Homo sapiens: one gene and its partners. The gene in region 1 interacts genetically with each later gene. Each region holds a gene or a part of one and is shown on either strand. Other genes may lie near its edges.

What was found. A genetic interaction does not mean that the proteins touch.
Region 2: changes in ALK (region 1) and LARS2 together harm fitness less than expected from each alone (positive genetic interaction), as found in Homo sapiens cells (one large-scale study listed by BioGRID).
Region 3: changes in ALK (region 1) and NPY4R together harm fitness less than expected from each alone (positive genetic interaction), as found in Homo sapiens cells (one large-scale study listed by BioGRID).

Annotation. Positions count from the first base shown.
Region 1 is NC_000002.12:29,911,587-29,915,086, forward strand, and holds part of ALK (ALK tyrosine kinase receptor isoform 1 precursor), read right to left. Parts: intron 1-3,500. UniProt on the Homo sapiens protein: Neuronal receptor tyrosine kinase that is essentially and transiently expressed in specific regions of the central and peripheral nervous systems and plays an important role in the genesis and differentiation of the nervous system.
Region 2 is NC_000003.12:45,493,076-45,496,575, reverse strand, and holds part of LARS2 (leucine--tRNA ligase, mitochondrial), read right to left. Parts: intron 1,333-3,500; exon of another isoform or gene 1,076-1,332; intron 302-1,075; coding exon 203-301; intron 1-202.
Region 3 is NC_000010.11:46,463,159-46,467,400, reverse strand, and holds the start of NPY4R (neuropeptide Y receptor type 4), read left to right. Parts: upstream 1-1,442; 5' UTR 1,443-1,723; intron 1,724-2,668; exon of another isoform or gene 2,669-3,515; 5' UTR 3,516-3,671; intron 3,672-4,242.

The DNA of each region.
Region 1 (3,500 bases):
AATTCGCTGACGGAACTGGCCAAGGGCCTCAGCTCACCTGAGTGGCAGAGGTGTGGACAGACTCAAAGCAGAATAACAAAGGCTTTGAGAACAAAGCAAAGGTTCAAACCACACCCAACTCAGACCAAACAATGTAATGTACAAAATTTGCAGGATACAATCTCAAATTACTCAACATAAAAGAAAAAAAATGACTAATTCTTAAGAGGAAAGATATCATATGCCAATAATAAGATCATCCAGATGTTGGAATTATCAAAGACGTGAAAGAAGCTGTTATGACCATGTCCCATAAGGTGAAAGTAAACACTCTGGAAAATGAATGGAAAGGTAGTTCTCATCAAGAAACAGAAGTCATTGTCAAATATGAAACATTTAAACTGGAAACTAAAATATCTAAAGTAAATAATTATATCAGAATGGAGATAACAGAGGAAAGAGTCAATCAACTTGAGGATAGGTCAATAGAAATTGTTCAATCTACAGAACAAAGAGAAAAATTTCAAAAAAAGAAATTAGCAGCGTCTCAAGAGCATGGGAGATCTAACAGGTGTGTAATCAGAGTCTCAGGAGAGGAATATATTGGTGCAGGAAAAAAAGGAGAAAATAATAATTGAAAAATCCCATTTGATGAAAGACATAAACTTATAGACTCAAGAGTCTCAAAAAACTACAAACAGGATAAAGTCAAATAAAACCATGCAGAGATACATCATAATCAAATTCTGAAAACCAAAAGCCAAGAAAAAAATATTGAAAGCAATTACAAAAAGGAACAACAATGTAATGGCAGATTGCTCATCACAAACTATGAAGGACACAGGAACAAAATAGTTAAAGTGTGGAAAGAAAGGAACTGTCAATGCATAATTCTGAACCTAGTAAAAATATCCTTCAGGAACTAAGAGAATTTATCGTCAATAGTCTTATTCTAATGGAAATGCAAAAAAAGACCTCTTTAGGCTGAAGGGAAATAATAAAATAGGAAATATTGAAACTTGAGGAAAAGGGAAGAGCAAAAGAAATGGTATATATCTGGATAGCTATAAAGGACTATTTTTCTATTTAAAAGTTATTTAAAACACGCATGACTGGCATATATATATATTTTATTTATAATACATATATAAATATACAGGCTTAGCAAGTTTAAGAGAGTTGTAGAAGATTGCAAAGCTAACAAAAGATAAAGAACATCATAGAATTCATGTCTTCGAGCTCCTAATCTAGTGTTCTCCTCACCACAGAACACTTACTTTACTTATCTGGGCTTAAAAGAGTCCTTTCCATGCTCACCCTCATGAACTCACATTCCAATGAAAACTAAATAAAAGATAAGTAGGGGTCAAAGAAAAATATAACCAATGGTTCAATCTATCCTCATTTCCTTTGGCTAGTTTCCTGATTTCTTTAAGCCTGCCTAGATTTCCCTTGTCCTCTAACTTCATACCTTTTTCATACCTTCCTTTAGCTTTATTCTTACTCTAAGGATTTCTGACTGCCTACCACTGCATGCACCTGTTGTTAGTCAGAAAGGTAAGGTGCAAGAAAAAAAAAAGACTCTTAAATAACCAAGGGATTGGGTGTATCTTCCCCAAGGGAGATCTTCTCTGCCCACTTTCTGGAATATGTACACCACAACACAAAGCGAATCTGATAGAATTTCCCTGGGAAAGGACCCAAGCTCAGAACAGCCAGCTGAAAAATTCATCACAAAATTTACTGAAGAAAAATAAGCTATTCTGAAAAATACAATTAATCAAAAAGCATACTGAAGAATGCCTCCAACCTCCTCCACTACCTCACCACCAGGCCAACACTCCCTGCTTACATCTTGACCTGTGTGAAAGAGCCCTGGTCATCACAAGGTTAAGAAACATTGGCCACACCCTAGACCACAGAGCAACACAATGGCTGTAAAGAAGAAGGACTCCTTGATAGCTTTATTCTCAGCTCTCTCCACATGATCCTAGACCTACAACCATCCTCACCCACACGCCTTATTTTTTATCTACTCCCAAGTAGAAATGATGTTCATGTGCATCTTTTGGAGGCAATGGCTCAGCTATGGTTCATAGAAACCACCATGTACAAAATGTTCTGTGGTTCTTAGCCTCTTTTTTTAGATTGAGGGATCTTCCTGAGGCAGCCTCCCACTCAAGTCCCTGGGTTATACGTCTCCAGGGAGTCTCAAAGTTTAACTGCTCTTAATGTGCTCAGGTCCATTAACCAGTTGGTAATTTACATTTCTCTCCATATTCTCCACTTGGCAATGAAGGGTGATGCTGAAAATACAGAAAGAACACATCTTCAGCTAATTAAAATAAAAGAGTTACCAGAGGCCAGTAGCCCAGTGCCTCTAGACCTGGACAGAGCACTCTCAGTTAAGAAACGTCTGCCATCTGAAAATGATTCCGCTGTAACATCTCTATCTTGTTCTTCCTCCATCTTAACTTTCATATTTTCATAAAGTTAAGCCTTGGTTTCCTTCTGTAGGAAAAAAGAACTGGATTGCGAATATGCTGGTGGACTCTTTGAACTGAATCCAAAGTCAAAAGGCTTACGAGAGGACATTAATTCATGGGGAGGAAGTAAATACCACACTTCAATCCTCCTTTCCATGCATATTTCTGAGAAAGTCGCCTTCCATGGTGAAATGGTAGAAACTACTACACTTATAACTCTCTTCATTTCCCATACATCCCACCTTTCATCTCTTAGGGGTAAGAAGCTAGTTGAATGGAGAACAACAGCATCACAACTGCTGCTGCCAAGATTGCCACACATGGCCACACATAGAGATTACAACTCCAGATGGCACCATTCAGACAGACTAAAATGTATATGGAACCCCTAGAGTTGCAGAGTGCACAGCCTGCATGACCAGATGCTGGAGTGCAGCTGTTGCTATTATATAAAAAAACAATAGTGGTTCATATTGATGAAGCACTTTATTTTGCATCAGGCATTGGGTTAAGGATTTGCACACATCATCTAATTTAATCCTCATGACAACACCTTGAACTATTACTATCCCCATTTAGGAACATTTAAGAACTATTATATCCCTATTTTTCTAATGATAAAGCTGGGCCTCAATGATTTCAAGGAATTTTTCCAAGCCCTGGCTATTGCCCACCAAATATTTGTTGCATGGTCTTCTAGCAAGGATACTGGAAATTTTTTCACCTATTGACATGTCTTGCTCTTTGTAATCTGCACTTGGAGATGATTCCCTTAGTGGAAAGAACTCTGACTTGAAGGAAAGGGGAACTGTGGTTCTAGTCAGTATGAAAGTTTCCAGGTGTATACCATTTTGTGCTATATGACCTGGAAAAATATGGTCTGGATTCCAGTTACTTCATTTACAAAATAAAGCAAACATTTGTCCTGCCTACCATAGGATTAATAAGTAATAATAAATGTGAACATGCTTTATAAATTGTAAAGTTCCAAATAACCATAACAGGACACTAATAATGATTATAAAGAAAGGCAAA
Region 2 (3,500 bases), on another chromosome or scaffold:
TCCTTTCCCTTCTCCTTTCACACCTGTCACAGCTCCATCGTGGTCTAAGAGCACTCTCTGCCCACTCCTCCTCTTCTCCCCTTTAATCTGCACAGGCATTTCCCCCCAAGAAATCTCTTGCATGTCTAATTCCATCTTGGTCTTTGCTTCTAGGAGGAGCCACACTGACAAATGCTCAAAGACATCAGCAGGGACGTTTTACCTGTGTGGATTATGAGGGTCAGTGTATCTGAAGTAGTACCAAGCAGAATCAACAAAGGTATCCATCGTGTCTGTCTCTCTCTTGGCTGCTCCCTTGCACCTAAGAAAGAAATGAAATTCATCAATTGGTTTCTTTTTAAATTTTAATGCAGTTTTCCATCAGCTTTTGAGAGAGCTATAAGTATGAATTTAAAATGTCATAAGAATAAAGCCACAGGCTGGGTGTGGTGGCTCACGCTTGTAATCCCAGCACTTTGGGAGGCTGAGGTGGGTGGATCACGAGGTCAAAAGATCGAGACCATACTGGCCAACATGGTGAAACCCCATCTCTACTAAAAATACGAACAATTAGCTGGGCGTCGTGGCGTGTGCCTGTAGTCCCAGCTACTTGGGAGGCTGAGGTAGGAGAATGGCTTGAACCCGGGAGGTGGAGGTTGCAGTGAGCCAAGATCGTGCCATTGCACTCCACCCTGGTGACATAGCAAGACTCTGTCTCAAAAAAAAAAAAGAATAAAGCCACATATGAAAAGACAATTCAGGGAAAGCTCTCTTTTTATATTGTATAGTATGCGATGTTTTAAAGAAATTTATTTACAAATAAAAGTTTCAATTTTCAACAATTAAAAGCCTTATTTTCCACTTCTCTGAATTTAACCTGGTAGAAAGCCTCACCATCCAAAAGGACAAGACAGGATTAGGTATCTCTTTTGTGCCTTAACTTCTGTTCCAGGCATGTCAAGATTGCCTTCGCCAATGCCTACTTTATGATGCTTATGAAGCCAATCAATGCATGAAGACAAATGAGAACCAAATATAGGGAGATGTGTGGAAAATCAACTTGGATTTTTCTTCTACTTCTGTTCTGGGGTGACAGGTGCAGAAATCTACCAGGATGACTCGAGGAAGACAAACCAACTTGGAAGCCCCAAAGGCAATGGTTGCTCCAGCTCATGCCAGCCTGTAAGAATCAATTGGGGCATCTCTTCACAACACTGTGACAAAAGATGGCAAGTTGGTAGCTTGAAACTGGCCCTGATGGGAGTATGTACATCACGGAAATTGGCAAATGCTAGAAATCAGGACCCCCCTCCAAAGCTAATTACATATCTACCATGAGACCACTGCCTAAAGGTAGGTTCCTTATGGAAGAGTGAAGAAAGCCCTGGTGTTCAAGACAGAGAATAAAGTGAGATCCTTGATATGTGAAGGGTTGCATAGAAAAAGGAATCCCTGTCCTAGGGACAGACATGTCCAGCAGGACCAAGGTCTCACAAGGGCCCAAGTGTTACACTCATTATTTTTATTTTGAGATGGAGTCTGGCTCTGTCACCTGGGCTGGAGTGCAGTGGCTCGATCTCAGCTCACTGCAACCTCTGCCTCCTAGGCTCAAGCAATTCTCCTGCCTCAGCCTCCTGAGTAACTGGGATTACAGGTGCATGCCATGATGCCCGGCTAATTTTTGTATTTTTAGTAGAGATAGGGTTTCACCATGTTGGCCAGGCTGGTCTCGAACTCTTGACCTCAAGTGATCCGCCTGCCTCAGCCTCCCAAAGTGCTGGGATCACAGGCATGAGCCATCATGCCCAGCTGCTACACTCATTCTTAAGAACATTCCTAGAGTTGTGGGCCTGTGGGACTGAAGGAACCAGGTGCCAAAAGCCACACTACCTAGGAACTCAAAAGAAGGTGCCCTTAGTCAAGCCTAGCACAGGACGGGGATTAGCTGCCTTGGAGACTCCTCAAGGCCTGGATCAGCAGAGAACCAGCACCTTCTGTCTGATGGGTAGGACCAGCTATCAACAGGGCCTTCTGTGGCAGTGGGAAGCCATAGCAGGCTCTCCCTTCTAAGGCATGGATGTGAAGCTCATCGCCCCTCCAAATATTGCGCTTTGGGCAGTGTAAGTCTTTGGGTGTTATTGGAGAATTTGGGGAGAAGGGATGAGGAATCCCAAGAGGAACTGATAAATCTTCTGCTAATTTAGCATGTATGGGCTTGAGTGTATTTTTAATTTAAGAATAAAAGAAGGGTTGTATTTCTGTCTTCCATTTGTGAAGTAGTTCATACCAGCTTTACAAATATTACCCAAGGAAATGGCCAGTCCCCCACATAGTCCTCCAGCTCCCTCGTCAGCTGGTTAAATGCAGTGGCTGAGCAGAGAGCATGGGCGCCCTAGATCTGGCAGGGCTTTGGGACCCCCTGCATTTTAATCAGGGGACCTCCCAATGAGAACAGTGGTGGTCTCTAAGAGTAGAAGCTTTTCAGAGAGAGCCCTCGGGGAACCCAGCTTCCTACCACCCAGGGCTGCTCTAAGAAGCTGATCTCAACAGTGCGCCTCTAAATTGAAGCCAGGTCTTTTTATTTGGAGAGCAATCAACCAGAACACAGACACTACTTTGGGAAATAATTAGAAAATAAAGATTACTTCATCTTCCTCACTTACCTTGTGCAAGTGAGGTCCAAGTGAGGGAGAAAATGCGGGCTCAATTTATAAAAGGAATAACAGCTGGCTAACATTTGCCATGCTGATTTCCTTTTTAATGGTCTTGTTGGACTTGAAGGCAACTAACATGTTTTATTGCTGATACTAAAAACTAGATGATAAGGAAGAAGCTACGTGGCAAGCAGGAGGGATAGAAGTGATAGATAATGGTGATAATGTTATCAGGATTAGCTCCAATAGTAATAATAATAATACTGGGTAGTAGGAACTGAGCCAAGTACCGCAGAAGTATTATCTCATTTAATCCCCAGTAGCCCTGGGGATTATGAGACCGATACTGCTCATATCCCCATTTTTCAGATGAGTAACTAGGATTCAGAGAGGTTAAGAACCTTGTCCAAGGTCTTGTAGTTCAAGGGTAAGGAATCCACATCTGGTGGGCTCTGGTGCCTGTAGTCTGTACCACTGGGCTGCCTTGCTCGGCCACACTGGCTCAGTAGCTCTCAGCCTTGGATGCTCATTAAGATCATCCAGGGGCTGGGCGTGGTGGCACACGCCTGTAATCCCAGCACTTTGGGAGGCCTAGGCGGGCAGAACACGAGGTCAGGAGATGGAGATCATCCTGGCTAACACGGTGAAACCCCATCTCTACTAAAAATACAAAAAATTAGCCGGGCTTGGTGGCGGGCACCTGTAGTCCCAGCTACTCGGGAGGCTGAGGCAGGATAATGGTGTGAACGCGGGAGGTGGAGCTGGCAGTGAGCCGAGATTGCACCACCGCACTCCAGCCTGGGCGACAGAGCGAGACTCCATCTCAAAAAAAAAAAAGATCATCCAGGGAGCCTTGCCCAACACCAA
Region 3 (4,242 bases), on another chromosome or scaffold:
CATGGTCCAGAAAGAAGAGATGACAGGTGCCAGTCTACAGCGATGGTGAGCAGAGGCCTGGGGGCTTGGCAGGTGGGTTCGCATCCTGGATCTGGCTGTTTCTTAGCTGAGTGACTTTGGGCAAGTTGCTCAACCACTGAGTGTCACTTTGCTTCATCAGCACGATGGGAATAAAAATGCCCACCTCTCAGAGCTGTTGTGATGATTAACTAAGGTAGTGTCTGCAGAGTCTCTGCACTACAAACGGCAGCTGCCATTCTAGAGGGACCACTGCCATGACTTCATGGGGACATTTCCATGGGGAGCCACAGGAGGTTCACTGGACAGGTGTGTATGTCCAGTGTTTAGGAGGTGCTCTTGAAGCAGATCTGTTACTCTCAGGAGGTTCTCTAAGCGCATATGTGACTTTGCCATGTGGGGATGGGGGGCAGGGAATTATAAGCTAGTGTATTCAAAACAGGAGCAGCCCTTGTAAGCAAAGCTGTTCCATTATAGCCAAGTCATGTGCATCTCAGCTCCAAAGGAGAAAGTGACCATTCTCATTGAATTCTCATCGCCACAACCTTGGGACTGCCTGAGATAAGACACTCCACTTCCAGGGCCCACCCTGAGTTTTCACTCACACCCTGGATGCCCATCTCCTTCCCTCACCCTGGCTGACATTCTCAGCCACACTGCCCTCCCCTGGTCTCCAGGGGCTGAATGCTCCCAGCCTCAGGGCTTTTGCCGTGGCTGTGCCATCCATCTGGCCTATCGAACCCATTTGCTCACAGCATCTCACCCCCTGTAATAATTTATTTCCCTCTTTCCTTGTACCCTGTCTGTCTTCTCCCCCAGGGCTGAGAGCTCCAGAAGGAACCAAGGACAGGGAGCCTGTCTTGTCCAGCTCTGGTGCCCAGCAGGAGAGCCAGGCTCATAGGAGGTCTGCAAGTAATGTTTCTGGACGAACTTATGAAAGGCAGGTCTTTTTATACCCATTTCATGGATGAGGAAACTGAGGCAGAGAGAGAGAGAGACAGGCAGACGCACACACCCCTAGACAGAGAGAAACACTCCTGGAGAAAGAGAAAGGGAGGGAGAGAGGGAGGGGGAGGGAGGGAGAGAGAGAGAGAGAGAGAAAGAAAGAAAGAAAGAAAGGAAAGAAAGAAAGAAAGAAAGAAAGAAAGAAAGAAAGAAAGAAAGAAAGAAAGAAAGAAAGAAAGAAAGAAAGAAAGAAAGAGAGAAAGACAGCGCAGCTCCAGCCTGCCTGTATCCAGGGTTGAGGTGGGCGTGAGAGACACACGCAGGCAGGGCTGCAGTTCCGGGCAGGCCTTGGGGGCTCAAGATGCGGCTCCCCAGGGCGAGTGCTGGGGTCCCGGGGCAGGCGGGCGGCTGGAGCCCTCTCGTGGGCGGGCGCAAGGGGCAGGCTGGGCGGGCGCAGGCGGGAGCGTAGCAGCCGCTCCACTCCGCACGCAGGCAGCATCGGGGCAGCAGGAGCAGGTGAAGCAGGCGCGGCTCTGCCCCGCGCCTGGTGCCCCCTGGGCACAGGAGTGCGGCCGGGGGCGGGGCCGAGTGGGCCCCGGTACGAACCCTCCGGGAAGCCGGGCGCGCTGCCTGCCCTTGGCCCGGGGCGCAGAGCGTCACACTGGATCTGGGGAGCATCCTACCCCCACTGTGGACCTCAGTCTCCTCACCTGAGACATGGGCGGCCCCATCCGCACCCTGTAAGCCGCAAGCCAAGGAGGTAAGGGGTGCATCTGAGGTGTCTGGGCGCTATGGGCATTAGGATATAGTAGCTTTTGCTGAGATTTCAGGAGACAAAGCAAAGGGCCTTCCCTATTCTAACCCCACTGGGAGATTAGCATTGTGTGTATGATTCATTAATTTTCCTCTGATTGACTGGGAAGGCAGGCTGCAGGGGGTCCCTGTTGGGGCTTGCAGCTGGTTCTAGTTTTTGTATCTGGAGAGCTGCCTGGGGACAAAATGCAGAGACACCATTTTATTGACCTTGCGTAATAATCTACCCTCCCCCTCATACACTCGCCACCCCCTTGGGTGTGCCTGAGGGACTTGAGGTCCCCTGGTCCTCACTGGTCAGTGTACCCCAAGCCCAGCAGCCCCAGGCAGATGCCCAACACCACCTTTTCAGTGCTCCTCCTCCTCCTGTCTTGGCCCTCTCTGCCAATCCATTTTCTATATCCAAGTGATCTTACTGGAATGGACCTGACCTTGCTGGTCTGGCCCACCACTCCAGCTTCATCATCTGCCACCCTGGAACCTCTTATTCTGCTTACTTTTCCCAGCAGGCTCTGCTCCTTCCTGCCTCTGTGCCTTTGCACATGCTGTTCCTTGCACTTCGAGTTCCCTCCTCTCCCTGTCCCTTTGGCTGGTTGACTCCTCTTCAGCCTTTGAGCCCTGTACCATTGCCACCTCTTCTCTCACCTCCCTGCTCCCTGCTCCTTCTCTGATCTCTCAACTCACAGGCCTCTCTTTCATATTGGTGTTGGCAATGGCAATGAGTTCCATCTGCATTCGTGCTGGTCAGCCCCTCTGCTCTGGGAGGGCCATGACTGTATAAGTCATCTTTGCAGCCCTTGTTTCTAGCCCAGGGCTTGACACACACTTATTGAGTGGGTGAATGAAGCAGTGAGCATTTTCTGGAGCCCTCCCAGCCCAGTCCTTCCACTCTGATCCTGCTTTAGGTGGTTGGTTTGGGATGAATGGTGTTTCTCCACACCACTGGCCAAGCCTTGCTGATGGTCACCCAGAGCCTTGGGTTCTGGCCCATTTGCTGCTTCTGAGTGCAGTGCCTCTGCCACAGGTTCATGCAGCTGCGACTGTTCTTTATCTTATATTGGGCCCTGTGTTTGGCTCTGGAATAGTTTATTTTGCCATGTTCAGCCCCAAATGGCCCTTTTTGCCCGAAGACCATAGTGCTGGAGAAATCTTCCTGCCTTCGAGATCTGGTTCCTAAATAACCAGACTGTAAACTATCAGGTGAATTCACAGCTTGATCTTTTAAATGACCAAATGAGACTCTTTTTTTTTTTTTTGAGACAGAGTCTCGCTCTGTTGCCCAGGCTGGAGTGCAGTGGTGCACTCTCTGCTGACTGCAACCTCCGCCTCCCAGGTTCAAGTGATTCTCCTGCTTCACCCTCCCATGTAGCTGGGACTACAGGCATGCACCACCACACTTGGCTAATTTTTGTATTTTCAGCGGAGACGGGGTTTCACCATGTTGGCCAGGCAGGTGTTGAAGTCCTGACCTTAGAAACTCATCTTTATAAGTAGATCAGATGCACAGCAAGTGACATTCATGACAGCCGACAAATAGATTTTACTGAGCTCTGGTTGATTTTGGCCTTGTGCTCTGCAAAAACTGCCTTAACATAGCAATTGATCATGTAAAAAATACATATGGCCATGATATGAGACTTAAAGAATATCTCAAATAGGGTTTTCTGCTATAGTGTTTTACAAGATGGGGTCCAAGGGCCATGTGCATCAGAATCACATAGTCTACTTGTTAAATACAGATTCCTGGCCCCCATCCTGGATTCACTTAACTACATCTCCTGGTGGAAGGGCCCTGGGATCTGCACTTTCAACATGCTTCTAGAATGATTCTGATGTTTACTGAAGGTTGAGAACTGCAACCCTGTGGGATTAATAATGACTAGAGAATCTGAGAGGTGAGTCACAATGATGTATGTAGTGGTATGGTGCTTCCCATGCAAAACATCCATCATTGGCACTAACACGGGGGAACTCTGGAGTCTAAATTCCAACTCAGTCTTGGCAGGGGGTCCGTTGTGCTGAGGAGGTCCTCGGAGAAGGGACAGCCTGTACCAGGGCATAGAGATGTGGAAGAGTCTGGTGTGCTTGTGAGCTGCACACTGCATCAAGTGACTTGAACATAGTCATGGAGTAGGTTCTGTGGAGGGCACTGGGCACCTGTGACTTTGGCCAGGTATGTCTGTGCACATGGTGGGTAGTAGGAAGAAGCTGGTGTGCTGATGAGCCAGGCTTTGCATACTGGGCAGTCTTCAGTTTTGCCAGGTATCACCTAAAAAACAAGGCTACCAGGGCAGGGAGGGGCTGAGACCAGGAGGGTGCACTGATTGTGGATCCCCGAGGCTTTAGCTCTATCTTGAAGGGAATGGGGTGCCGTGGAAGGACACAAGCAATCCTGTGCAGAGTGGCATTTATTGCTGTCTCCATTAAGATAAAATGTGACAAGGGGCATTCTACCCATGTTCCCTG